Linked DNA regions of Homo sapiens: all the other regions are linked to region 3. Evidence: fine-mapped expression QTL. A gene starts in region 3. Each other region holds a variant in brackets. All regions are shown on one strand. Distances are from middle to middle.

Region 1 (4,266 bases), 30 kb after region 3:
GGCATTCTGTCTCTGCCGAGCCAGCAACTGCGAGCATTGCTATTCTCTGGCCAGACCCCGTGCTCCTGGGTCAGGAGGAGGGAGGCAGCTGAGGATGTGCGCAGCACACTTTTTATATATGTGGGGCCATAATATTTAAGTGTCTTGGCTGTAAGCCTGCGACTGGGTCCCCCGACAGCCAAGCCTTGCTCCGCACGCTCTAACAGCTGTCTGTAAAACCCGTTTATGGAGCCTCCATAAATTTCCCAGCTGCTGCAAACACAGGGCTGGGGACAAAGAGTCGAGGGAGGGAGGTGTGGAAGAGCAGCAGCTTCAGCGTCTCCGCTGGCTGGTCCTCTGGGCCCCAGCTTGCCCCCCACCCACCTGGGGCTGCCTTACCCTAAATTCTTTTATTGAAGCTGATCTTAACGTCGACCCCGTGGGGCCTGGCTGGGCGATCCAGCTCACCACAGATGCAGGCACTTTCAAGATTGCAGCAAAAGGTACAGTAAATCAGAATTAAGTGTCATGATAGTGATTTGAACTGACACTGTTTTCACCTTGTCCATTTACTGGGAAATATATAACAGGAATAGATTGAGCCTGTCATATTGTACCTGAAAAATACAGCTGTTAGGGTAGGAAAGGCAGCTGGCACCAAGGCAAGGTCCCAGAGGACAATGGGGTGTGTGGCTGAGCAGAGGGCGGGTGGGGGCTCCTCGTCAGCATCCCGTTGGGATGAAACCGTCCTGGGAGCAGAGAACCAGACTCTGCTTTTCCGAAGGCCCCCAGGGTGGCGTGCCCCCAGCGTGGCATGACCCCACTGCTACAGGGACCCAGCAGCCAGCTCTGTTGCCCTGAGGGTCCAATCTGCCCAGGCTACAGAGCATTACAGAAAAACTTTTTATTGAAGTATAGCATAGATACCGAAAAGTGCACAAATAATAAATATATTGCTTGATGAATCTTACCAACCGAATACACCTGTGTTTCCAACATCCAACTCCAGAAACCACATCACTCGCCCCCAGAAGTCCCCCTCCCTCTGTGTCCTGCTCCAGTCTCAATCCTCCCTCCTCGCACAAGGGGGACCACTATTCTGGTGTCTCAAGCTATGGATTGATACTATATCTGGCATTTTAATGAGGTCATTTTGAAATTCCCACCTGTTTTATAAAGTGGATTTTGAAATTCCCACCTGTTTTTTTTTGCCCCCCCCCACCCAAAGAAAACAGGAACCTCTCAGCTTTGAAATAATCATTATTATTATTTTTTGAGACAGGGTCTTACTCTGTCGCCCAGGCTGGAGTGCAGTGGCACGATCTTGGCTCACTGCAATCTCCAACTCCCAGGTTCAAGTGATTCTCCCGCCTCAGCCTCCCGAGTAGCTGGGATTACAGGCCCCACCACCTGGTCCGGCTAATTTTTGTATTTTTAATAGAGACAGGGTTTCACCATGTTGACCAGGTTGGTCTCGAACTTCTGACCTCAAGTGCCTGCCTCAGCCTCCCAAAGTGCTGGGATTATAGGCACGAGCCACCGCGCCCGGTCAGCTTTGAAATAATTTATAAGGAATATGAACAACAGATACCTTCCTCTCTCTTCCCAGAGCCTTGCTGAATCCCAACCCCATTCCAGAGGCAGTGTGGGCGGGAAGGATGGGGAAGGATCTGGGGTAGGGTGTGGGATGGCAGGGTTGGAGCGGGAGTCAGAAATGGGGTAACCAGATGTGGGAGGAGAGAGGCTTAGAACTGGAGTGGACTGAGGAAGGGGTGAAAAGACAGGGAGGGGCTGAAGCCCAGAGATGGAAGAAATTTCAGGATGGAGTGAGGCTCAGGAATGGGGTCAGGGACAGGGTAAGGGTCAAGGATGAATTGAGGGTCAGGTTCAAGGCAGCTTCAGAAACAGGGTGGAGCCTTGCGCAGGTGGGGCTCAGGGAGGGAGCAGGTCAGAGGGCATGATGTGTCCATCCTTTACAATACAGGAAACTGCACACGATGAGGTCCTAGAGCCAAACTACAGGTAAAATGCAGGGGAGAGACGAGCTTTTCTGCAGCCAGGGCTTAGGCTCTTCCCACCCCATACTTCCAGCTCCTGGCAGCCCCAGGCGTGGGTGGGTGGCTCTGCCTACCCTGCCTTTCCCAGTGGGAGCCCCAGGCCCACCCTTACTGACTGGAGAGTGGCCGCTTGGCCACAGCACCATCGGCAGGTGACCTTCAATGTTACTCTTAGCACCCTCCGCTCTGGCTGTGGGTCTGCTTAGATCTGGCTCTTACCCTTGTCCCTCTTCCTGCAGGGCCTGGAGCTTGAGCTGGAACCCACGCTGCTTGTCTGGGGCTTGAGCCGCCTTCATCACGCATGCCAGCTCACCCCTGAGTCACACCTGCTCCCTGAGCCT[C/T]TGGCTCGGGGCCTCCCACAGATGGATCACCTGCTGTGTACCTGACTCCAAGTATATCCTGTGGTCGGGGCGGGGGGCACCCTCAGCGGGGAGATCCCTTTCGGGTGTGGACATCCATCTTCTCCGTCTCCATCTGGAGGCCAGCCCAAGCTGCCCCACAGCCAGGGTCCACACAGCTCTGGCCGCCCCCTTCGAGCAGGAGACCCCTGGTTTCCTTCTGGTTGATTCTGTCCCATCCACATTCCAACTCCACTTCTGCCATCAGCCCATGGGCACCTGCTGGGCAGGATGGCTGCTCTCTTTTTCCTGGCTTTGGCCTTCAGTGCTTTGACTTTCAGCCCTGGATTCTTTCCACCTTTGGCCACCTCAAGGAGGACTTGTTCTCAGGACCCACACTAGGGGTTGGACTGGCTTCTCCCTAGGAAGCACTGTGCTAAGGGCAAGATAAGGTGCTTCCCTCTCCTTGGCGAGACTCTCCTTGAGCACCCAGGCCTCACCCACATTCTCACTGAAGCACCACAGTCCCCTTGTGGGAGGTCAGCTCCCCACAGGACTGCAAGCTCCAGGAGGACAGGGACCATGTTTGCCTTGTGTAGTCCCAGCACTTGGCTCAATGCTAGGCACAAAGATGGCATTTTACAAATAGCAGTTGAATGTCTGCATGATGAATAGCTAAAAGCACAGCTTGGAAGCTAGGGAAATCTAAGGTTGAATCTTGACACCTCCACTCAGAGTATCATTTAACTGCTCTAGGCCTCACTTTTCTCTCCTGTAAAAGGGGATCATACCTCCTTTCACACGAGGCTCTGTGAGGATCAGGGGCAACAATGCATATTGATGTTTGGCACCATGCCTAGCACATGGCGAGCACTCAACACATGATACTGGGTATCGTTTCTATTTTCTCTTACCACTAGACCAACCACTGGTGTTTCTGTTCCTAGAACCACTTGGTTCCACACCCTCCATTTCCACTCCACAGAACTTTGGAGGTTCTAGGTTGCCTTCAGCAGGCATCTGATGCTAGCCTGGCCACATGCTCACGCCCTCCTTGGGCTCACCACAAAATGTTGGCAGACCCCGCCCCTTCCCTCTGATCCTCAAGAGTCCCAGCTATGGGAGGCAGGGCTGGAGAAGGCCTATCCCTCCTTTACGGAACCCTTTCTTCCCATCTGCTAGGCACTGACCTTGCCTCCCTGTCTCTGGCAGGCAGTCCAGGGTCAGCTCCAGGGGAGTAGCGTGACAGGGGAGCTGGGGTCCGATGGCTGGCCATGGGGAGCCATGGTTCTGCTGATAAAGGGTCTTTATCGAGCTCCCTCTGCAGATGTGGGCTGCATCATTCACGGGACTCGGGATGGGAGCCCATTCATCTGGGGCACGGAAGGTGAAGGGGCTGGGATTTCTCATTCGAGGGCGACACGGAGTTCACATCAGGAAATATTAGTCTGATGAGTTCCCTGCAAGTGGAGGGACTGTCAGGCATTAATCACAGCTGAGGGGGAGGCAGCGCTGGGCCCTCAGACAATCCCCCAGGGTCTCATCCTTTCTGGGAACTTCAGAACCTTGCTGGGCCTGAAGACAAGGATTGAAATTACCCTTGGAGGAGCTCAGGCTGCTCTCTGTCACTCTGAAACCTTTCTGCCCCCGGGGCTGGAGCCCTTTGTGAGAATGTGGACCGGTGGCTTCACCCCGAGTCTCAGTTTCCTTGTCTATAAAATGGGCTGGGAAGTACCTCCCTCAGTGGGTGATTGTGAGGCATACAGCAGGCGCTCCATAAATGCTGGTTCCAGCTCCTGCCCCTTCCCTTTCCTCCTCCTCTACTGGACAGTACACCCCTGGATGGCAGGATCGGGTTTATTTCTTATCTCCGTGAGGCCTATATGATGGTA
Region 2 (4,000 bases), 22 kb before region 3:
GAATACACAAAGAGCTCTTAAAACTCAACAGTAAAAAAAACAAACAATCCAATGAGAAAATGAGTAAAGGGCATGAAGAAATTTTCATGGAAGACATACAGATGGCAAATAAGCACATGAAAAGATGTTCAACATCATTCATTAACCACTAGGGAAATACAGTGTGAAACCAAATGAATTATCACTATGCACGTGTCAGAATGGCTAAAACAAAAAAATACTGACGATAACAAATGCTGGAAAAGATGTCGAGAAACTGGATCCTCATATATTCATTACAGCTACACCAAAAAGTAGTTTAACATTTTATTTAAAAACTAAACATGCAACTACCATGTGACCCAGCAAATGCATTCCTGGATATTTATCCCAGAGGAATAAAAACACAGCCACATGAAAGCCTTCACCTGAGTATTTATAGCAACTTTATTCATAATGGCTCCAGAATGAAAACAACCAAGATGTCCTTCAATGGGTAAATGGTTAAACAAATTGTGGGATATCCAAACCATGGAATACTATTTATCAGTAAAAAGAAATAAACTATTAACCCACACAATAGACTCTCTGCATGAATCTCAGGAGAATTATGCTGAGTTTTTTTTAAAAGCCAATTCCAAAAGGTGACATACTATAATTCCGTTTATATAAGATTCTTCAAATGCCAGAATTATAGAAATGGAGAACAGATTAGTGGCTATCAAGGGTTAAGGAGAAGGTGGTAGTATAAGGGAAGTGAGTGTAGCTATAAAACGACAACATGAAAGATCCTTATGGTGATAGAAATTGTATTTTGGCAGGTTTTTTCTATATTTTATGAGGCTTTGATATCCTGAGGTCTTGCAGAAGCAGGGAGGGACTGCCCCTCCTAGGTGAATGACTTGCTTGTGTGCATGCCTTGGATATGCAAACCAACCAATACTGAGTTCTTATCTCCATCTGCCTGCTTTCACGGGCTCTTGCAGTCCAGGACACGATTCCCCTGCCCTAAATCACCCCAGGGCCAGGTACCTGACAATGAGGGACTCACCCATGTACCCCAGGACCTGCCAAAATTATTCAAACTTAATCAATCCTAACTGTGCTCACCCTGCTTGACACTGCCCTTCCTGGCTCGTTTCTCCCTGGCTCTCTGTGCTTCCTGACACACCCCACGCTTCCCCACCTATGTTTCCCCACCTGTGCTTCCCCAGGTGGCCCTACAGGGTGTGGCCTGTCTGCTCCTCTTGGGAACTGCGAGTAATAATCTTTCCAGTGGCAATCCTCTCCTCATTTATTGGCCACATCATATATGAATAAAAACAAAAACCTGGGCACGTTTTAAAACAGAAATGTTCTGTATTAATGTACTGTATTAATGTCAGTATCCTGGTTGTAACATTGTACTAGTCTGCAAGACTTTACCATTGGTGGGGGGTAAACAGGATCTCTCTGTAGTACTTCCTACAACTGCATGTGAGTCTACCATTGTCTCAAAATAAAAAGTTTAACTGAAAAAAAAGAAAGAAAAATTAAAGCAAGCGCCTCGTCTTTTTTCAACCATCCAATTAATTGACGTTTCATTATTAGAAGGCTTTTTAAATAGGGAATTAGGAAGTTTTAGCAAACAGAAGGAAGTACCAGAACACTGCCTGTTCCCTACCACTTTCCAAATGAATCAACTACGGAACAAGTCATTAGCGGGAACTTTGGGTCAAAACGAAAAATTCATGGTTAGCAGGGAAGGGAAGCCTAGAAGAAAACAAGACCAGCTCCTCTGCAACCAGGTGCTTTAAGCCACTATTTCTAAGAGGATCACCTAACGATAGCTGATGTTTGCCTCCTGCACACCTCGTGGATGCCAGCACTGTGCTAAGTGTGCCAC[G/A]TGCATTCTCTCAGACCACAGCTCTGCTCCCTTGGGGCCAGGGTGCGGCAGGACAAAGGGGAATGTGGAGGGAAGGACCTTAAAAGAGGTTTGCTAATCCAGGCCACAGGGAACAAAGGCCCAGGGCTAGTTACAAAAACCACTTTCCGCATTTCAGTAAATCTCAGCTTAATGTATTTTCTAACAAAACAAAAAGGAGGAACACCTGGTGCCTTTTATCAAAACAAGCTCTGGTTTTGAAAATAAACCAATCTGTGTGGCAGGACTCAAAGTCTGTGGTTATTTCTGCAGTTAGTAGCCCCACGATAGCAAAGCCCTGTGCTCAGGAAGCTGGGACAGCAAGAACAAGCTGCTGCCCTTGTTTCCTCATTGGCTTCATGGAGGCAGAGTTCCAGGAGGGGCAACTAACTGCCTGAGGCTTTGGGCTGCCGCTATCCTCCAGCCCATGGAGAACGAGGGCAATTTTCCTGCCCCCTGAAAGGCCCCCCACCACAGCTTCGGCTTTCTGAAAATCCATGTGACAGCTGTGCTCAGACGGGATATGCCAATGTCCCACATTTCCACTTGATATCTGCCATATGTTTTTAACAAGATATAGTTGCCATCTTCACATGTTTTTCATAACGTGATTTTTAAAAATTCCTTGAGCACTATATAAAAATGCAAGCTTGTTTGAACTTGTATCACCATTGAGATTCTTTTTCCTTCTCTTACTTTAGTAAGTAAAAGAATAGGACCTCATTTGGAGGTTTGGGATTTTAAACTTATCCCTCCCTATGTTCCCTATACCCAGCCCACTGGCCCAGAGAGAAGCAGACCTCTCCTAGGACCCCCATAGTCCCGCATATTTGCATTCAAGCATTTGAAACTCCAAGTATTCAGGAAATTCCTACTACGTTTTGGGCATATATAAATTATACAGGTCCAGTTGTTTTTTTAAAAAAGGTTCTTTTGTCTAATTAGTTTCAGAAATAAATAGTGTTGAGAGAAAGAGACATGGGGGGAGGCAGGAGCAGCAAAAAAGGGGAAGTGGAGACTCCCAGGGCAGCTGGCCCATGTGCTGCCCGCACAGGCCGAGCCCAAGGCTGGCTTCCCAGCGTGCAGGGGCAGGACAGGGCAAGGGCTAAAGAAACATGACCCGGTGCCCCTCTCAGACTGGGCTCTGGGTCCCAACTCCTCTGCCCCCTCAAGGGCCCTGCCTCATCAGCCAGCCCCTCTCTCCTGTATCTACACCCCTCCCTTTCTTTGGTTCCTTCTCATCAGTAACTAGACACATTCGACACTTTCCTACCTTTAACAAAGGGAGTCATGGCATCCTCTAGCTGGGGTCATGGCATCCTCTAGCTCCCGCTATGCCCTGGCCTCCCCTCTTCAAAGGCCATCTGCACTCTCAACCTCTCGTTGTCACCTCCCACTTACCTTGCAGGTCCACTCTAACCTTGCTTCTGAGCTTGCCACCAAGTTCACAACCATCTCCTTGCATTAAACCCAATGGACACCCTTCAGGCTCCTTTCACTTCGGCAACTTTGAACATTACTCACCACTCCTTCTTACAGAAATACACTTTTCCCCTTAGTTTTCTTTAATTTTCCACCTACCTCTCCAGATGCTCAGGCTTAGTCCCCTTTTGAGTGCCTCCTCTTCTACCCATCCTTAACCAGTGACCCTCCACGGTAGTGGAGTCTGAAATGGCACACCCTCTCTTCTAGTCCCACAACCCTCCCTAGACAAGCCCACTTATGCCCGCAGTCCTTGCTATATGAGGATGGTGCTCAGACCTCTCTCCAGACCTTCAGCCCCAGGGCTCCGCTAGATGTCATACAAGCAGCTCAAACTCAAGGTGTTCAAAACTGACCCAAGAGTCTCCCTCCCGCCTCCACCCGACCTGGCTGTCTCTGCTCCTGTCCCAGCAGAGAACCCCAGCATCTACCCATGGCCAGCAAGACATCCTGTGGCACTCTCATCCTTCCCCTTCCTCCCTACTCCCCCACCTCCCAACATTCAACCCATTCTTGCCATCAAAAATACATATTTGGGTTCCCACGTCCCACGCTCCCACAGCCCCAGGATCCACGTACTGCTTCACATGTCCATTGTCAATAGCCTGGCGCAGGCTCTAGCTCTCACTCTGCACG
Region 3 (4,227 bases):
CTATCATTAGTTTCACTCTACAGATGAGGAAACTGAAACTCAGAAAAGTTCAATAATTTGTCCAAGGGCACAAAGTAAGTAGGAAAGCCAAGACTTAAGCTGAGGGCTAATTCTAAACTCCCTGCACATAACCATGGCACAACATTCCAGTTGGAAGTGGTAAAAGGTCCCTAGCAGGATGGAGACAGGGCAAGAAAAATGCCTTGAACCTAAATTAGGAGTGTGACCTAAAGCCTAGAAGGAAGGAATGAAAAATATGGATTACAGAAGGTAAGTTTAGGTTTAAATGAACCAGTAATCGCCACGTCAACTGCTTCCCATGGGGCTTGGAGCCCGGGTCCCAAGCAGAAGCCTCATCTCTCTGAGGCCCTATTTAAAGATTCTGAGCATGGTACAGTATCTCCAAGGACCCCACATGATTTCTAACAAGCAAGAAAGGTGTCACCATCTACTGTAACTAAACATCCTAGCACATTGAGTTTTTCAGTTAGTCAAGGCTTCACAGAGCTTATTTTTTAACTCTCTAAGCTTTCCTGGTGCCGCTGATAAGATTTCCCAGCCCTGTTAAAACGAGATGAGATCCAGCCAGCTGTCGAGAAATGTACAATGAGATTATACTGAGAAGGAACCACGAGAGACAAAGGCCCCTAAGAGGAGCTGGTCTGCTGTCTGCTTTTGTGGCAGCAATCGGAGTGGGCTCTGGTTCTTGGGTGGGGGCAGGAAGCAGGGAAGGGGCAACCACCATTTGCCTTTTGCCCTCCTGTGGTCTTCCTCAGTGCCTTGTGCAAGAGGTGTTGAGGGGCAGGGAACAGAAGAGTCTCATCTTTCATGGTGAGAAGGGCTGCTGATTTAGAACAGTTGTGTGTTGGTAACAAAGAGGACAAAAGATGCTCTTGGGTCTACCCCGTTCCCTGGTGCCTGCCTCTGAGGATGTGATGTCCCCTGGTGCCATGCCTCAGCTCTTGTCCCAGCCCCTGCTCCTCCCGTCTCGCTGGTGTTGGAGTCACTGTAGGGTGCTCGACGTGCCCACCATGTTCCTGGATGGGTGCTCTGGGTCTCGGGTACCCAGGCTGGGCATGTCACCTTCCAGACAGGTGCCTGAGGGTTTAGGTGTCCTCTCTGCTGTGCCCAGGTCACAGAGGCAGTGATGCTCCTGGGGCAGGTGCACGTTGGTCTGCACCCACGTGACCAGAGAGAGCAGGACCCCAGGCCAGGCCGGTCAAACGATTGACTGTTCCCAGTCTGTGCCCAGGTGGGCCGCCTCCCTCTCACGCGGGCAGAGGTGGCTCTCGGCGCCCCTCACCTGCCCGGGCCTTGGGGGCGCTGCTGGCACTCGGGTCCCCCAGCTTCTCCCGCCTCTCGCCGCCAGGCCGAGCCCGGGCACCGGCAGCCGCGGCGCGCTCGGGGCTCTGCAAAGGCCGCCCGGGCCTGTCCCCGCCGCGGGCCGGGCACGGAGCCCGCAGGCCTCGGCGCGGCCCGGCTCCTCCCGTCCGCCCGCCCCTCGGCCGGGGGCCCGCGCCCGCCCGCCCGCCCTCCCGGCTGCAGGGCCGGCTCCGCCGAGCCTCCGCGGCGCCCGGGCCTCACTTAACTGTTCCCCGCTGGGGCGGCGGCGGCGGTGGCTGCGGCGGCGGCGGGTCCCGGCTCCGTCTCACGCAGAAGCAGCTTCTCATCGCCCGGGCGGCGCGGGAGGGGCCGGGCCCGGGGCCCAGGCGGCAGGAGCCGGCGCCGCAGCTCGAGCGCGAGCCTCACCGAGAGCGGCGGCGGCGGCGGCGGCGGCGGAGGGGCGGGGCGCGGCCTGGCGGCGGCGGCGACAACGGCAGTGGCGGCGGCGGCTCCCTCCGCGGGCCGCGGCGGCGGGCCGGGCTCCGGGCCTCCCGGCGCTGGCGCTGGTTCAGGATCGGGGGAGGCGCCCGGCGCCCGAGGCTGGCTCGGGCGGGAGGAGGGAGAGGGAGCCCTGGCGTCCCGAGCCCGCGCCGCCGCCCCGGCCGGCACCCCGCCTCCCCAGCCTCCCCCTCGACCCAGCCCGTCAGCCGCAGGCAGGGCCCCGGTGCGCCCACCCGGGCCTCCCCGAGCCCGCCGGCGACCCCAGTCCAGCCTCAGGCCCCCGGGAGCCCACGGCCTCTAGAGCCTGGGGCATCGATGGTCCCCGCCCCCAGGCTGGTCTTTTCCAGGGACCCTCAGCCCACTTAGCTCTCGTAGGCCTCGCTGTACGCAAGACCGGTCTTCCGCTCGGCTGCAGATCCCTGGAAGCCCCCAGGCCCTCAGGCTAGAAGTTGGACCCTTCTAAGGACTCTCCGCCCACCCAGCCATTCTAGGCTTCACTGAACCCTAGAATCCTTCAGCTCATCTTCCCCCACCCCCCAGCTCACCTAAGGTGAGCTCAGCCAGTCGTCTCAAACTAACCCCAATTGCCTAGCAATTCTCTTATATTAGTTAGATGATTTATCCCCAGAAGCCTAGAATCAGGTTTATGGGGCCAGCCTCAGGCAAGCATCTAGAAGAAGTTTTTAGCAGGAGTCCTACCCTGCAGTACTTGGGGAAGGCATAAGCCAAGGATAAAATGGAGCTGGATGGTTGGGGGAGGGTCCAGAGCTTGACCCTCAGCTAGAGTGGCTGGTAGGAAAGGCGGACTCTGCGCCTTAACCAACCATGCCCCCCACACCGCCCAGCCAGGCACCCCAGGCAGAGGCCAGCGTGTGCAAGATTTGAAAGGTTTCCTGCCAGGAGGCTGGAGCATTCGTTAGGACTTGAGGACCATGCAGGAGTGATCAGCATTGATTTGCTAATGCATTGAGTCTCATTTTCACACATTCTAGGCTTTTCCATAATAGCTGTTTGATCCTAAAGAGAAGGGTGCCAAGCAGAATGGGCTGTCGGGGGAAACATCCTGTAGGGAAGCCATGCACGTGTGCATTCCCAGTGTCTTCACTACTCAGAAATGCCATGGGTTCAGATGGCTTTACAGCAAGCCTTATCCTCCCATCAGGGCACAGATCATCCCTATGTTACTTAAACTGTTACACAGGAAAAAATAAACAAAAGAAACAAAAATTTTTATTTCATTTCCCAAGTTTAGCATAACCCTGATACCAAAATCCAACAGACAATACCAAAAAGAACTGCAGATGACTAACCTAGAACACGAGTCCCCAGAGAATTTAATATTTATTTTTTGAAAATGGGCTTCTGTGGGCAACTTGAGAAAGTGCTGCATGCCGTTTATAGTGTACCTTTTGGAGAATCACGATAAGTATTCGTATATTAAGGAAGGCCTCTGTGAAGTCCAGGAGTAAAGAAACCTGTTTGGTTTGTTTAACCTGGCATTTCCCAAACTCATCTGAGCCAGGACCACCTTCTAAAGCTCACTGATAAATCCTCAATATGTGAATCTGCACTATATATTTAAGTATATAATAGTCGTAAAACTATTAAATACAATTTTAGCCATTTGAATCCAGTTTACTATTAAAGCAACTGAAAACCCACCATGATCAAGCAAGATTTATTCCAGAGGCGCAAGAAAAATCCAACATTAGGGAATTTGTAAATGCATTGCATTGTTAAAGGAAAACAAATTACAGGATATTATCAATGGGATAGATGCTTTAAAAGTATTTTATAAACTTCAAAACTAATGACCCATAAATTTCTAAAAACTCTTAGTAAACTATTATAGGAAGAAAGTTTAAACTTTTAACATGACAAAGTTTATCAGAAGCCATCAACAAACATATTTAATGGTGAAACACTAAAGGTATTCTCATGTAAGTCAGTCAAAAGGATGCCTGCTATAATGGCTATAGAATAAAGCCAATGCAATAAGATAAGAAAAATAAATAAGAAATATAAATATTAGAAGGGAAGAGATAAAATTGTCATTATTTGCTTATGATTTAAGTGTTTCCCAAAAAGTAAAAATAAAAAAAATCAACTAAAAATCATAGAGACTTTGGTAAGGTGGTCAGTTATAAGATAAACACCAAAATCAATGGTTTTCCTAAATGTTAAGGGAGAAGCCTTCTCCTTCCTTCTTCTTCTTCTTCTTCTTCTTCTTATTATTATTATTATTATTATTATTATTATTCTTTTTTTTCTTCCTTACCCTGTCTTATGGTATTGAAGGGAGAAGCCTTCTTTTCCATATAGAGGGACTTCCATTAGAATAAGACTTCTGGCCTCTCTCCACTCTAAGGGAAGATGAGTGAGTTTGGAAAAAGTGGACAAGAA
Region 4 (4,000 bases), 130 kb before region 3:
AGGACTCTTGACACTGCTTCAGGACGAAGCCGGGGCCCATACGTAGACTCCCAAGAGGAAAGGAGGTTCCAGAATTGTAAGACGCTTACTTTTTCTTTTATAAACTGAAGTTAAACAGGGGCGCTATCAGCAGCCTGCTGCTGGTGAAGTAATTACTAGATCAGCTGAAGAAACTCGAGGGGAGCATGGCTCTTGCACAGAACACCCTGCAATGCAGATGGACATGGCCTCTAGGAAGGAGATGCCTCAGACCCCATATCCCAGGAGGAAAAGGAAGCTGCGCGTTCAAGGTGGCCAAAGAGTAACTGATCCTTTCCTCTCCCACTCTCAGGCAGTCTTTATGATTCAGTCAGGCTTCAACCATATTCCGAGTATCTGAGCTGGAAGCAGGGAGGGGCAGGATGAGAACCCCAGCCAAGTATCCCGTCAGCTTGTTAGAAAAACCCTGGGGCTTGGCTCAATTCTTTTTTACAAAAAGAAAACTCACAGTTAAAATCATTATTAGCAATGATGTAACATATAAATTTATTTTAGTGACAAAATTTATTTAAATAACTTTATGAATGATGTCAGTTTTTATTTATAGAACCATTAGTTCTAACAAGTTCACCTGAATGTTTCATATCTACATTACTACATTCTGTGGGAGAAATCGTGTGCGAAAGAGCTATTTTTAAATTTGGAGATTTGGGAATATCTTGGAGGTAAGTATCCAACAAAAACATTTAAGGTCTAATTACTGTATTGGGAAGAGATGTTCAAGATAACCTATCAGGCGGGGCGTGGTGGCTCATGCCTGCAATCCCAGCACTTTGGAAGGCCAAGGTGGGCGGATCACCTAAGGTCAGGAGTTTGAGACCAGCCAGGTCCAACATGGTGAAACCCCGTCTCTACTAAAAATACAAAATTAGCTGGGCATGGTGGCGGGTACCTGTGATCCCAGCTACTTGGGAGGCTGTGGCAGGAAAACTGCTTGAATCTGGGAGGTGGAGTTTGCAGTGAGCCGATATCACACCATTGCATTCCAGCCTGGGCAAAAGAGCAAGACTCCGTCTCAAAAAAAAAAAAAAAAAAAAAGAAAGAAAGAAAGAAAACGACCTATCAAAGTTTATTGTCTTAGAACCACCACGACAGCAAAACTGTAACAGGGAGCATTAGAGGCTCAAATACCCACTTCAGTCAGGCTTAGTGGTTTGCACGCCTGCAATTCCAGCACATTGGGAGGCTGAGGCAGCTGGATCACTTGAGCCCAGGAGTTCAAGGCCAGCCTAGGCAACATGGCAAGACCCCATCTCTATAAAATATCAAAAAAATCAGCTGGGCATGGTGGCACACGCCTGTGGTTCCAGTTTCTCAGGAGGCTGGGGTGGGAGGATCACCTGAGCCTGGGAAGTCGAGGCTGCAGTGAGTGATGATCTTGCCACTGCACTCCAACCTGGGCAACAGAGAAAGACCCTGTCTCAAAATAAATAAAATAAGGGCCAGGCACGGTGGCTCACACCTGTAATCCCAGCACTTTGGGAGGCCGAGGTGGGTGGATCACGAGGTAAATCGATCGAGACCATCCTGGCCAACATGGTGAAACCCCGTCTCTACTAAAAATACAAAAATTAGCTGGGCGTGGTGGCACGTGCCTGTTGTCCCATCTACTCGGGAGGCTGAGGCAGGAGAATCACTTGAACCCGGGAGGCGGAGGTGGCAGGGAGCTGAGATCACGCCACTGCACTCCAGCCTGGGCGACAGAACAAGACTCCATCTAAAATAAAATAAAATAAAATAAAATAAAAAATAAAATAAAATAAAATAAATTCACCTCTAGCCAGCTCGCAGGGTCTTACTGGGAGCTGTGGGTCTTACTGGGGAGAGAGCTGAAGCCCGCTCACCTTTAAGGGGCCTAGAAATAGGGTTTTGGCCCAGGTAGCCCTGCCAGGACGTGGTTCAAGATCCTTCCTGGAATCGCCATCATGGTGCATGCTCGCTCATCCCCGGAGTGGCTGCCCTGCGCACCCACAGGCTCACAGGAGGGAAGGGAAGAAAGGGCTGCCCAGTATTCCTATCAGTGGAGTCTGGTGGAGAGCGGCACGTGCATCTCTGTGGTGTGTTGTTACCATGTGTCAAAGCATTTAAAGAACATTGATTAAGGAAGCATTTTCCTGGCTGGTTAAAAAAAAAAAAACTCAATTATGGTCATCGACCCCTACCAGAAGGCTATTCACTGTATTACGTGGCATGCACATTATGCAGTGCTTAACAAAAGTAAAATGAAAAAGAAGAGGAAAACATTCACTTCCATCTCACTTATTTAGTTGGGTCTTTATGGGGCTAAAGCCATGCAGGGGTTAAAAAATGCAAGGTCCATACCCCTGGCCACTGCAAATGTATCCTGA[T/A]GCTTGAATAGGGCACTCCTTTGGCTAAGACCAGGGGCCACCTTTCTACTCGCCCAGCCCCAGGCCACCTGGGTGTCCCGCTTACTGAGCCCGAGGCTCAATGGGATTAGCTGCAGAGTGGTAAACAATGCCTACACAGGAAACATTTCTTCCCATTAACAAAAAAATCAATTCTGCCCCACTAGGCTCTAGCTGAACACAAATGAATTAGGGGGATGAAGGAAAGAGGCTGGAACAACACACTATTGGTGGTTGTGAGCTGGTGCAGCATTTAGGAGAACAAAGTGGAGGCACGGTGGGACCCTGGTGGGTCAGGGCAGCAAGGGGCAGGGTGAACACATTTTAACAGCCAAACTTCTCCTTTCACACATGTGTAAAACCTTTGGAATTCCATCAGAAAAAACTTTATTTCAAAACTGATCTTTGAAGTTTGAAAATAAAAGAAGAAAGCCTATTTCTCAGTACAGAAAGCAGGTTTTAAAATGCTGAAGGGACCAAAGGGAGGTGCTAGCAGGTGGTGGTGGCACTGACTCTGAGGTCCATGCCTCTCCTGTCTCCCGGTGCTCTCTGCTTTACCGCGTCTGTTTCTCACTTAGACTTTCCCTGATGGGACACCAGACTTCCATCTTGCCTCTCTCATTGTCTTTTGCCCTGTTGGGGCCTGGTGAGCCCTTGTCCCAGCCCTGGAAGGTAATCTGGATGGTATCCTTGATGATCCAGAGAGGAGGGGAGGCCACCTGTGTATATGTCATGTGTGCACACATGTGAGCATGCACACGTGTCATGTGTGCACATATGCATGTGAGGCTGTGTGTCACATGCAAGACCATGCACACGGTATGTATGTACACGTGAGAGTGTGCCACACGTGAGTGTATGCATGTGCCACGTAACGCATGTGAGATTGTGTCCATGTACGAGTTATGCACATGTGAGAAGGGGCATAGTGAGAAGAAAGAAACCGCAAGAGCCTCATGGGCAAGCAGAGGCTGAGCCTGTGTAATGAACACCTCTTCCAGGAAGCAGCCGGTGATACACAGGCCACTGCTGTTGGCAACGGATTCCTCTACAGCCCACACAGGCAGAAAGAAGTCACTAGGACCTCCAACCTCAGGTATGAAAACAAAACTCCATACTTGAGAAGGGAGAAGGGGCAAACAGCAACACTCCTGAGCTCTGGGAGTCCCTTCTGCCCAGCCAGGCCCTGGTCTGCTCCGGGTGCTCAGCTGCTTCCCTGCTTGCAGCTGGACCTTTCACCCCTCCCCTGCTTGCTCACCCAGTTGACAAGTTCATGTGTCCTTGACAATGCACTGGGGTGGGTGGGGATGCTCACGGGGAGGTGGCACGTCTGTGGGGTTTTCTGGCAAAAATAGATGCTCACTAAAAACCCGCTGAACTTGAAGAAATAGGGATTTTATCTTTCTCACATATTTCACAGCTGACAAAGCACTTTCAGCAAGTCTTCTCTTAATTAGTCTTTACCACAATCCCGGGAGGCAGGCATTTTCAGCCCCTCTTGATAGAAGACTGACTTGAAGCTCAAAGAAGGTGAGGGGCTTGTCTCGGGGGCAGAGCTGGGACTTGAGTCCAGAGCTTTTAAAAATTAAACCTCA
Region 5 (4,000 bases), 87 kb before region 3:
GAGTAGGTACTCGACAGCATCAAACAAAACCGAGAGGCCGGCTGGGAGTGGGGGCTCATGCCTATAATCCCAGGACTTTGGAAGGCCGAGGCGAGTGGGTCACTTGAACCCAGGAGTTTGAGACCAGCCTGGGCATCATGGTGAAACCCCATCTCTACCAAAAAACAAACAAACAAACAAACAAAAATTAGCCAGTTTTATAATCCAGTCTCAAAATAAATAAATAGATAAAAATTAAAAAAAAAAACCTGAGAGGTCCACGAGAATGATGGTGGCTGGTGCACTTATGGACAGCAGTTTCAGTGGAGTCATTTTAGTGGGCCCGAAGTTGACCACTCTGTAGGCAGATCCATGAGTTTAGATTTTAGGAGAGTTCATAAAGCTCCCCAGCAGACTGAGGAGAAGGAGACTCAAAGGCTCGAGAAACTGTCTCTACTTAGGATAGTGCCAGGAGGTGAAGGCCTTCTGGCACCTTCCCCAGTAGGTCTTGGACCCCTGGAGCAAGGGCTGTCCATCAGAGGACAACCATGTCTGCCACTTGACTCAAATGATGGATTATTATTCCAAAATCTGTTTGGTCACTGGAGAATTGTAACTGGAACAGTCCCTAAATCCTCGGGGAGTGTTACCAAGCTATCCTCCCCTTCCCCCTGCCCACGGAACTGCCCGGAGGAGACAGGGCTCTCACCCTGCTGCTTCTGGTGGCCATCACGTCTCTCTGCAGGAGGGATTGGCTGTTCTGTAACAAACAGGTCAGCAAGCACGCACTGCCAGCGATGACGGCTCCAGCTAAATACATGCTGAGGGGAATTTCATTTTTTCCCCCAAGTCAGTCTTAGGCACCTTATTCAATTAACATGGCCACTAAGCTGCAGACAGCTCCATATAAAAGCCCTTCAGTTATAGAATATATTTTATTATGAGACAATAGTTGCCAGCACGATTTATTTCCTTTGATGGGATTCTGCTTTTTCCTTGTTAATTTAAATCTGTATTTTCTAGTGCTGATTCCAGGTCTGTGTGAATTTTTAAAATGTTACCATTAATCTTGTAGACCCAGTGGCCACATATAATGAAGATGGTTCTGCCCAGGCAGCTGCAGTGCCTGCTGTCCTCCCAGACTGTCAAAGGGCAGCGTCGAGAGAGTGGTGACTAGCAAGGCAGAGGCGCACTCATAGTCAGAGGCACCTGCCACTTTGATCTCCCAACCCTTATACACACACACACACACACACACACACACACACACAACCAATGGGGTTCACAGGATTCCAGAAAATGCAATGAAAAGAGGATACATCCTGGCAAATACTGATGGTGACTTCAGACTTTTCCTCTGCCATACTAAATGCTGGAAGACGACGCAGCCAGTTTTGAAGGTGAAAATAGTTGTGATTCAGCAATTTTGTATGACTTCAAGTTGTCTTTTGTGCAGGAAGACAACAGAAGATTACTCATGTCACCTTCTCTAGGAGAAACACTTAATAATACATTCCAGATGATTCAAATTTAATACTTAAGAAAGGGGAAGTAATGCGACAAAAGGACCAGCATTTATTCTTCCCTTTTTGAGATTTGAGGAAAGAACCTGAAATGTGGGAAATGACCTATTTAAGAAAATTTAAAAATATCATCAGTTGACTTGTTTACAGCGTGTACCTGTCATATGCATCTTATGATCCCTAACCCAATCCTACGGCGAGTTGCTGAGACCCCCCCTACTCCACAGGTGTCTCAGAGAGGCTCCACAGCTTGCCTCTCTGCTGGATACAGCTTGGACTTGAACACAGAGTATGCAGAAGCTTGGATTTGAATGCTGATGGGGCCAATTACACAATTCATGCTCTTAATTATGACGGTCTACTCAAAAACTGGAAATAATGTTAC[T/C]ATGTCTGACTCAGAATATTATGCAGACATAAAATGATGTTTACAGGCTTTGTGGAGAGGGTTGGAGTGAGATGCTCGGGATCTGTGTATGGAATATGATCTCAGCTGTGGAAGGAAAGGACAGGAACCAGGGCCTTGGGGCAGCATTTGTCATGGCAATGAACTGGGAGCAGCCCAATGACCATCAATAAGAGGAGGCTAATAAAATGTGGAATTTTCATATAATACTAAAGTAGGACAGAACGAATAGATGAAGAGAGCCAGAGATTTTTCTGTAGAAATGCCCAACTCCCAAAGACTGGCTGTTAAGTAAAACAAAACCAAAAAACCAGCCAAGCAAAAACAAAGTTGCAGAATGATGTATTATAAACAATCCCATAAGACAATCTTTTTTCCATGGGCACACACGGCTAAGCTACAGTACAGCAAAGGGCTGGAGGGAGTAACTTAGAGGTGACTGAGGGGCAGGAGAGGCTCACGGTATTGACGACAGAAGCCTCTAAGATGGGAGTGTGGATTCTCCCCACTGCTCTTCCATATGTTTTAAGTGTTAATTTTTTTGGATGAGAAATTATTTCTTTTAATCAGAAAAAAAGATGGCAAAAACTAGGGGAACACTTCTCAATGTGGTTGGGAGAGTAGAAGAGACACACGTATGAAAGCATCCAGCGTGGTGGTGCTTGGTGCTGAAGGGACACCTTGTTTTCTATATAATGTGTCTGCTGGTGGACAAAGACCAGAGGTCATGTACAAAGGAGAGGAATGGATTGTGGGGGCAGCAGAAGAAATATGAAAAGCAACAAAAATCAAGTTAAGATAGGAAGGGGAAGAAGAACACAGCAAATGGCTAAATGAAATTCCACATTATTCCTGCAAACACCACTGGGAAGAAGTCATCTGTGACGCACAGCTTCTGTGCCAGGTGTAAGGACGTGCTTAATGAATGCCATTTAATGAAGAAAAAGGCTCTTATAAAACACCTGGCACAAGCAGGGTGCGGGAGTCACAGAGAAGGGGACCTTTGCTGCACCTGCTGGCATTTTAATAAGCACCTTCTAGAGCGCCCGCTCTCCAAGGCTGGTCAATGGTGTCAGAAAGAGGTCCCTGACCATTGCCCACACTTGCTGACAGTTTGGGGAACCTTATTTCTTAAAGACCATATGCTCAGGTATCGGATCACCCTGGAAGGTAATTAAAATGAATCATTTTCAGCTGGAAGGGCCTGACTAACACTCGAATCCTCCTCAATGACTTCACAGCCAGGATTCCTGCTCCAAGTCCCCTGTGTTTCCCAAGTGAGGCTCTGAATTACGATTGAGATCTGTGAAGACCCAGAGATGTGAGGAGATATTGTAATTCTTTCTTGTAACTTGTTTCCGCTAAAACAGAAAGTCAGTTATTTTAATCACTCTAGGCTCTAAAATATTTTCAGTTGTGGTTTTCTTTTCATATTGATTTTGGAGCCAACCTCAGGGAGAAACCACCATGCGCAAAGTTTACTATCATTTGTCACGGTCTGATGAGTCTCTTTTTTGTTTCGTTTTGTAATTGACACAAGCCAAGACAAGTAAGGTTTTGTAAAACTTAAAAGAGACCTATTTCCTCTACAGTTATATTCACTATCTTATAAACCTTCTATGCCCAGACCTAAAACTTAATTCCAAGTATTACCCAGTGAACACAGGCCCATGCCAGGGGAGCTGGACCAGTATCAACAGGCACACAAGGCCGCTATAATTAGGATGTGGCGACTGACTCAGCGCACTTTTTTTATTGTGCTCCTACTGTGTGCTAGGCACTGCCTGGCACCGAGACAGTTTAAGAAACCAAATGAAACGTGTATCTTCCCCTTTAGGAATTTATCCATAAGTCAACTGAAACACGAACATAAATCTCCTATATCACAAAGTAAAAGCTCTGAATATCAAAAGATAGGCCATAAAGGACAATATGGTTATATGCTTCAATTTTAAAACAGTGGCATGAAAAAGAAATAACTGGGTGTGGTGGCTCATGCCTGTAATCACAGCACTTTGGGAGGCCAAGGCGGGTGGATCACGAGGTCAGGAGTTCAAGACCAGCCTGAACAACATGGTGAAACCCCGTTTCTACT
Region 6 (4,000 bases), 66 kb before region 3:
ATGTTTATTCTAACTATTTCCTACTCCTGTAGTCCTGTTTACATAATTAGTGTAAACCGTGTTGCAAAACGGGATTTTTGAGTGTGTAGGAAGGGAATGATCACAGAGTCCTTCTTAACCACATGATCTTGACACAGAGCATTCAGATGCCAGAGCTGAACACCCACCGAGGTGAAACTCTGCATTTCTGTGGTACCTGCTCCCTGCATGCTTCAAGCAAATGCCACGAGGGCTCATCTGCTGTCTCACCGGGTCTAGGCTATCAGAAAGGCCCTGGCTGATACAAAGGCGGCTCTGGGCTCAAATGAACAAGAGTAAAGCAGAGTACAGGCCTGAGCCAGGAGGCTGGCCTCAGAAGCCGAGGAGGACAGGGTGCCTCTGGGAGCCCACAGGGAAACACATGGCCCCTGCCAGCCCTGGCCAGGGAAGACGCACATGGCTGAGGGGGCTGTAAACCATCTGCCACACCGAGTAAAGTGCACACCTGGATTTCAGTTGACTGAAGACAGTGAACATCTATTTCCTTCTGGACAGCTGGCATCCACTCACCCCCTTTCTGACTTTTGACTGCCCCTCCATATTTTAGGAGCAGCACCAGTCGTGGTTTGTCCTTGAGTTCCAATGGAGCTGATCCTACTTCCTGCTCAGGCCTGGTCAATGGAAGAATTTTCCAGAAAACAGTGACAAGCCCAGGGTGCACATGACCCTACCTAGATCAATCAAGACCAATGAGACTAAATTCTAGAACTTCTTTTGAACTGTCAGGAACACAAACTTGCTCTTGGCCTCTGGACTTGAACCTGGATGAAAAGCAGGTGGAGCTACTGTAGCACCAGGCCTCCTCGAGGGGGAAACATGTCAGAACAGAGCCCAGCACCGGAGCCAGGGGGAGACAGGGAAACCAGAACCCAGTGCCGGCCTTCAAGCTTCCGCTTCCAGGCATGCCAGTCCTGCCTCCCCAACTCCTCTGTGATGCCAGCCAATAAATTATTCCTTTTGCTCAAGCCAAACTGGGTTGGGTTTCCTGTCACTTACAATCAACAGAGCCCTAAGTGAAACCCTGGGATTTCACTGTAGTAAGTATTTATGGAGCTGCAACAGAGCCAGGCCCATGCTCAGTGCTGAGGCTGCTGGAGGAACAAGACACAAACGGGCCCAGGCCTCAGCAGTTCTCTGCTTACTGGGGAATTATCATGCAGCTGTGTAATATTTATGTTTCTTCCTGACTTGGAGCCCTCCACTGACTTTCTAGCGTGCTTGGAATAAACTCCAGGCCATGTCCTAGGAGGTCCTGCCAACCCTCGCCCTTGTCCCAACATTGTCCCTGGCTCTTCCAGCTGCACAGGGCTGTGTTCTGCTCCCAGAACGTGCCATGCTCATTCCCACTTCTCTCCTTCTGCTTCTGCTCTGCCTCAAAGACTATGCCTTCACATCTGTGCATGGCTGGTTTCCTGACATTCAGGTCTCTGCTCAAGTGTCACCTTCCTGACCCCCTCACGGAAGAGGCCCCCACTCCATCATTGTGTTTCACTTTCTTCACTGTCTGGAATTATCTCATTTATTTTCTTGTTTATTGCTCGTCTGTCCCTTTTAGAACATCAGCTCTGTGACAGCACGGCCTTTGCCTCACTTATATCCACATCCAGTGGCCTTGGCCCCGTGGTACAAAATAGGTCCCTGTGACCTTTCCTAGGGTGAATAACGAGTGTGAAGAGCTGAGGCCAGTGGCATCACAGGGTGTCGGGGAAGGACCCAGAGGAGCTTCAAGGCTGAATGCGCAGAAGGGCAGGGGAGGAAAGGCCCTAAGGTGGAGTCAGCAGTGCGAGCC[G/A]AGGCTCAGAGAGACCGCAGCTGAGCAGGAAGGGCAGCGAGGAGCACTGGGCTGACAGAGGCCCATGGCTGAGAGCCTGGGGGGCTGCATGGAAATCTCTTGGACCTCATTGCCTGGAGTGGCCTGAGTGCTCTCAGGGAAGAGAAGCAGCTGACAGTCCTGTTATTAAGACTCACCCAATAAACGTGTACTGAGGCGGGGCCTGCTTGGTCCGGCCCATGATCCGAATGTCACAAATCGCAGCTTCCGTTGAATCCCGTGGAATAAATTTAATGCACAGCCTCTTCTTCCTAAAAGCCACTTCCTCTGAAGGAAAGGACAATAGAAAAGGTATGAGTTTTCCAGAGATACCAGAATCTCTATTCTGAAAACCACATCCCCTGTCACGCCCTATTCCTGGCAGCAGAAGTGGCAGGTCACCTAAGCTGCTGGACAGAAGGGCTGCGCTCTGCCGCCTGCCTTCCCCGGGGCTGCAGTCACCCTGCTCTGCATGTGGGACCCAACCCAGACACCCCCTGCTGAGAAGGGGACCACACACCCTGCAGTAAATCTGGGTGGCTTCTAAGAGCCGCAACCACAATCTGCTCACTGCTCAGCCATCAGAAACCTGCACACTGACGCCCTGAGCATTAACACATTTCACCACACGGACTTCTTTTCTTTTTATTACAGAAATCTTCAAACATACCCCAAAGCAGAGAGAACAGTGGAATGAATCCACGTGTTCCCGTCACCCAGTGTCAATGCTGTGCACAATGGACAAGCTGGTTTCCTCTCCTCCCACCCCTGCAGTTTTGCTGGATATTTAAAATGAATCCCTGACGACACTACGTTATGTCACCATCAATACCTCAGTAGGCATCCAGGACACTGTTCTTTAAAGACCACCATGCCATCACCATTCCTAACAAAACGAACAGAATTCCTGAGTATCATCCAACAGAGAGTCTACATCCACGTTTTCTCCAGTCTGTCTGCATCTGGATCCCCAGGATGCTGAAACACTGCCTCTGGGTGTCAGGCCTCCCAGATCATTTGACTCTGGAACAACCACTCCTGTTCCCTTTTCTTCAGGGCACTAACAGGTTGGAGAAATCGGGTCACTCCCCTGTGCCTCCTGTAGGCTGGCAGAGCTAAAGCCTCGATTAGACTCAGGTTAGGTTTTTTAGGCATGCACGCCGTCCGGGGTACACGTAAGTCTAGGCTGTCATATAGTGAGGCCCAGAGTCTGGCTGGGCCATTCTTGCTGAGCTCTGCTGGCGTCGGCCCAGGACCTCGGTCACACAGTTCCCCAACTGCCATCCTCTGAGCACTTTCTCACCCTCTGATGACTGTTGCTAAGATCCATGTTTTATTAAAGGTTCACAATGGTGATTTTTGAACTCTGTCATTCCTTCTGCTCTTTTTTTTTTTTTTTTTTGAGATGGAGTCTCACTCTGTCACCCAGGCTGGAGTGCAGTGGCATGATCTTGGCTCACTGCAACCTCCACCTCCGGGGTTCAAGTGATTCTCCTGCCCCAGCCTCCTGAGTAGCTGAGATGCGTGTTACCATGCCTGGCTCATTTTTGTATTTTTAGTAGAGATGGTGTTTCACCATGTTGGTCAGGCTGGTCTTGAACTCCTGACCTCGTGATCCACCCTCCTTGGCCTCCCAAAGTGCTGGGGTTACAGGCGTGAGCCACCGCGCCTGGCCTCCTTCTGCATTTTTTAGCTAGAATCCTTCTATATGTAAAAAATAACTTTCCTTCATCAACTATTTGGTCTCCCTGAAATAAGTTTTGTATAGGAAAAAAAGGATAAGCACGTGATTCTTTTCTCTTACTTATCAAGCCTTAGAGTAAGGAGTTGGTGCTCTAGCAACCTCCAGTGCTGACCAACGGGAGGTGTGTGTTTGTTTGTGCTTTTAAACCTGAGTTTCAACCAACTGCGGCCATTTAATACACGAGTCAGACAGATCTGGGTTGAAATCCCAACACCAACATTTCCTGGCACTGTGACCTCAGGCAAGTTACTTAATTTCTCTGAGTCTTGGTAAACTGTAAAAGGGAGTTAATGAAACCCACCCCACAGGGATGTGGGTTGGATGCACTGTGCCAACACATATGATCCACTTAGCCCAGTGCCTGGCACACAGTAAGTGCTCAGTAAAGAACAGCTGTGTGGGATCTTACC
Region 7 (4,000 bases), 120 kb before region 3:
CTCCAGCCTGGACAACAGAGTGAGACATTGTCTCAAAGGAAAAAAAAAAAAAAAAAAAGAAAGTTAAAAAAAAGAACTAATACAGATAAAAATTTATTAAATAGTATAAAGCAAAAGTCTAATGGCTTTATAAATTTAAAAAGCAGTTATTTGGAAAGACAAATAAAGCAAATAAATCAACCAAGAAAAAGAGAGAGAAAAATAACATCAGGATATATATGACTATAGGTATATTAATTTTAAGATAAATACAAACTCTTAAGTAAAATTTTGTACCAATAAACTTTAAAATTTAGATGAAATTTAGGTGAAATTGCTATATTTTCTTTAAAAAAATACACATGATAAAACTGGCTCAAGAAAAAGTAGAAAGCCTGAAAAAAATCACTAATGCTGAAAGAAACTGAAATAGTTGTCCATCTCCTCAAAATGCCCCTAGCTTCCAGGTCCACATAGTTCAGACAGGATTTTTTTTTTTTTTTTTTGGTGTTCTTTTTTCCCCAAAATGAACAGCCATTTAAATATTTTAGAAATATTTTTATATTTGAAAAAAACTTAGATCACACAAAAATTACATTTTGATAAGCAAAAAGCCTAATCTTACTTATATAAATGCCCAAATCCTAACTTAAATAGCAGTGGCTCAAATCTAGTACTATATTTAAAGAAGAATGCACCATAATAAAGATTGATTTCAGAAATATAACAATAACTTTCTAAATGCTAAATCATCAAAACAAAATAATCTGTATCTGTCAATAAGTGAGAAAAAATATTATACTACATTAAAATATTCCAAATTTTTTTATATGAAACTCAAATTAGTGCCTGAATTTATTAAAAAAAAAATCTTTGGAAAATAGGAATAGAGAATGGGTCCTTTAATACAATCAAGCCCTCTCTCCTCCAAATTCCCCCAAATCTATATCAGACTTAACCATGGGACACTAGAAGCATTCCCATTAAAGTCAGGAACCAGGTAAGAATGAAAACTACTGCCACTGCTTTCAATGTTTTAGCCAAAAATACAAAGCAAGAAAAACCAATGGTGTATAAATGTTATCAAAGAGACAAAATGATCTGTATTTGCAGATGATGTTGTCTTCCAAGAAAATCCCAGTAAATAAACTGGAGGCTATTGGAAATAACAAGCATACAGAGAGGTGGCCAGTTACCAAATGAAGATTAAAAAAAACAACAGGGCCAGGTGGAGTGGCAGAAGCCTGTAATCCCAGCACTTTGAGAGGCTGAGGTGGGAGGACTGTTTGAGGCCAGGAGTTTGAGACCACCCTGGCCAACACAGTGAGAACCCCCATCTCTAAAAAAGAAAAAAAAAGACCCAACAATATTAAATTAAATATTTAATCACCAATGAAAACATAATGGGCAATGCAGGCTGGGTGCGGTGGCTCACGCCTGTAATCCCAGCACGTTGGGAGGCCGAGGGGGAGGATCACTTGAGGCTAGGAGTTCAAGACCAGCCTGGCCAACATGGTGAAACCCTGTCTCTACTAAAAATACAAAAATTAGCCAGGTGTGGCGGTGGGTGCCTGTAGTTCCAGCTACTTTGGAGGCTGAGGCAGAATTGCTTGAACCCGGGAGGCGGAGGTTGCAGTGAGCCGAGATCGCACCACTGTACTCCAGCCTGGGTGACAGAGTGAGTCCCTGTCTCAAAAAGAAACAAAACAAAAACCAAAACCAACATAATGGGTAATGCAACAAAATTTAAAACTTAGGAATTATATAAACAGAAAGCAAAGAAAACTATAATATGTTACTGAATAATATACAAAGACATTTGAATAGAGAGTTATATCTCTGGAAGGAAAGATTGGATATTTTTCTAAATGACCACTCTCCCCAAATTGACTTATAACTTCAATGTTTTTTTCAATCAAAATCCTCAAAGTATTTTCCTTGGAACTTAAAGTGATTCTAAATTTCTACTGGGTAAAAAAGTTATTATTACCTGGAACATTCTGAAAAATAACTACAAAGAATAGTAAGATAAGAAATTAAAATACATACATTTATAATTATTAAAAGCGTGACCCTCCCATTGGAATATGCATTCAACTCAATGGAACACAACACAGGCCACAAAATACATCACAGTAAGAGGTTATTATAGGATTGTTTTCCAAATGAGTTGGTTAAAAGAAGATTATTTAACAAGTGATGCTGGGACAATAATAAATAATTTGGAAAAACATAGATTCTTATCTTGTCACACATCAAAACAAATCACAGCAGAACTTTAGATTTAAATGTTAAAAAAAATGAAGGTACTAGAATATACCAGAAAACCGAGAAGGCTTTTCTAAAACGTGATGGCAAAGACACAAAACATAAAGGAAACATGAAATGAAAGTACAAAGCAGAAACTGGAAACAAGCGGTAGTAATGTGAGAGCAAAAGAAGGCCTTGTTGCAAGAGGAGCTCC[T/C]GCAACTCCACAAACAAAATTAAGACTGCAATGGAAGAGATGCTGCGGACAGACAGGCAAAGGTCTCGAGTAACACAAGTGGCTCAACACAGGCAACCTTAGCAGTAATCAAAGAAATGTAAATTAACAATAAAATACCCCTTCACCTTCCAATTGATAAAAATTAAAAAAAAAAAATTACCAGTTAGCAAGTCTTGTGTGGAAAACCAAACCAAACAAACCTCTTTCATACATGCAGAAGTGTAAACAAATTCAACCATTACGGGGGACAATTTGTCATTATATGTCAAAATAATTAAAAATGTGTTTATATATTTATTTAAAGGAACATTCACCGAAGTATAACTTTTAGAAATGAAGATAATGTAAAAACTCAGCCACTGAGGACTGGCTAGGTAAAGTACATTGTATCCATAAGAGGGAGGATGATACAACCATTAATCCCAGCCTGACGACCACCTGACCTAATGACAAGGAACGAGGTACATGAACAGGTCTCAAAGCAGAATAGACACCTGGAGTGTTGGAAAGGAACAAATTCCTGATACATGCAATAACATGGAAGACTCTCAAAAATATTATGCTGAGAGACACACAAAGCTACATATTGTATGAGTCCATGTATATGATAGCACTGGGCAGGCAAGTGACTGCCAGGGACTGGCGATGGGGAGGGAAGGGCCGGAAATGGAGGCAAGTGAACTTATGGGACTCCTGGCTATATTCTGTATCTTGTTTCTGGAGGCGGCTATCCTGTAGTTTGACATTGGTCAAAAGTCACTGAAATGTGCACATAAAAAGCCTGGATTTTATTACATGTAAATATATTTCAATAAATCTGACTTAAAAAGAACCCAGAATGGACAATTAGGTAGACATACACTTTTAAGTGTAAACATATGGCATAGAAAAAGTGTTAAAAGGACATACACTGAAATACTGTTTCTCTGGGTAATGGGGTTGTGATATTTTCTTTCCAATGTTTTCATATATTTTGTAACTTTTCTACAATGAACATGTAACTTTTATCATTCAGGTAAGAAAAGCTTTGTGTCTGTTTTTTTATTTTTTAAAAGAGGAAGAAATATCAATGAACTGTTTGGTCTAGGAACAAACTTTTTATCAGGCTCTTACCGGAAATGACGGGTGGGTCATGCTCAGTTGGAACCTCAGTCCCTCCTACCCTGAGGCAAAACCTCTCAAGGCACCTGTTCTAGCCCCTGCAGGGTGCCTGGCCCTCAATGATTGGTGGAAGGATAGAGGGACAGGAGGTCCACCCTGTCCAACAGCTTCATTTTGCAGCTAGGCAAACTGAGTTCCAGAGAAAGGAATCACGGTCCCATGTTTGGAAATGGTCAAAATGGGGCTTAAACCCCAGAAAGTAGTGCTACTTCCACTGTGCTGAACACCCATCAAAATCCCTGAGCTCTCCCAAACACCCCAGGAGGACACAAACTCTTGATGGGTTGAAGATAAAATTCTGCACAGGGAAAAGCTACAGACATTATCGGCCACCAGTGTTTTCTAGACTCTAGGAAGGTGCCTGATGTCTCAGAT

The links.
Region 1: its variant is fine-mapped to the expression of MVB12B in whole blood (INTERVAL, PIP above 0.99).
Region 2: its variant is fine-mapped to the expression of MVB12B in lung (TOPMed, PIP above 0.99).
Region 4: its variant is fine-mapped to the expression of MVB12B in whole blood (INTERVAL, PIP above 0.99). The same link has a PIP of 0.9 or more in monocytes after LPS.
Region 5: its variant is fine-mapped to the expression of MVB12B in esophagus mucosa (GTEx, PIP 0.98).
Region 6: its variant is fine-mapped to the expression of MVB12B in whole blood (TOPMed, PIP 0.98).
Region 7: its variant is fine-mapped to the expression of MVB12B in blood mononuclear cells (TOPMed, PIP above 0.99). The same link has a PIP of 0.9 or more in whole blood.

What each region holds. Positions count from the first base shown.
Region 1 is chr9:126,294,280-126,298,545 of GRCh38, reverse strand. No RefSeq gene overlaps it. Among named protein-coding and RNA genes, the nearest start is that of MVB12B, 30 kb to the left of the region's middle. The variant C/T (reference allele first, on the strand shown) is at 2,378.
Region 2 is chr9:126,346,230-126,350,229 of GRCh38, reverse strand. All of the region lies in intron 2 of MVB12B (multivesicular body subunit 12B), which reads right to left. Among named protein-coding and RNA genes, the nearest start is that of MVB12B, 21 kb to the right of the region's middle. RefSeq lists an enhancer at 2,529-3,489. The variant G/A (reference allele first, on the strand shown) is at 1,865.
Region 3 is chr9:126,324,373-126,328,599 of GRCh38, reverse strand. MVB12B (multivesicular body subunit 12B) reads right to left here and starts at 1,771. Exons shown (of 10, transcript NM_033446.3): 1 at 1,590-1,771. The coding sequence starts at 1,670. RefSeq lists an enhancer at 554-1,205 and a silencer at 1,647-1,786.
Region 4 is chr9:126,452,965-126,456,964 of GRCh38, reverse strand. The region is part of intron 7 of MVB12B (multivesicular body subunit 12B); the gene reads right to left. Among named protein-coding and RNA genes, the nearest start is that of NRON, 44 kb to the right of the region's middle. The variant T/A (reference allele first, on the strand shown) is at 2,388.
Region 5 is chr9:126,411,069-126,415,068 of GRCh38, reverse strand. The region is part of intron 6 of MVB12B (multivesicular body subunit 12B); the gene reads right to left. Among named protein-coding and RNA genes, the nearest start is that of NRON, 2.6 kb to the right of the region's middle. The variant T/C (reference allele first, on the strand shown) is at 1,888.
Region 6 is chr9:126,390,200-126,394,199 of GRCh38, reverse strand. MVB12B (multivesicular body subunit 12B) reads right to left here. Exons shown (of 10, transcript NM_033446.3): 5 at 2,005-2,134. Among named protein-coding and RNA genes, the nearest start is that of NRON, 18 kb to the left of the region's middle. The variant G/A (reference allele first, on the strand shown) is at 1,829.
Region 7 is chr9:126,442,997-126,446,996 of GRCh38, reverse strand. The region is part of intron 7 of MVB12B (multivesicular body subunit 12B); the gene reads right to left. Among named protein-coding and RNA genes, the nearest start is that of NRON, 34 kb to the right of the region's middle. The variant T/C (reference allele first, on the strand shown) is at 2,444.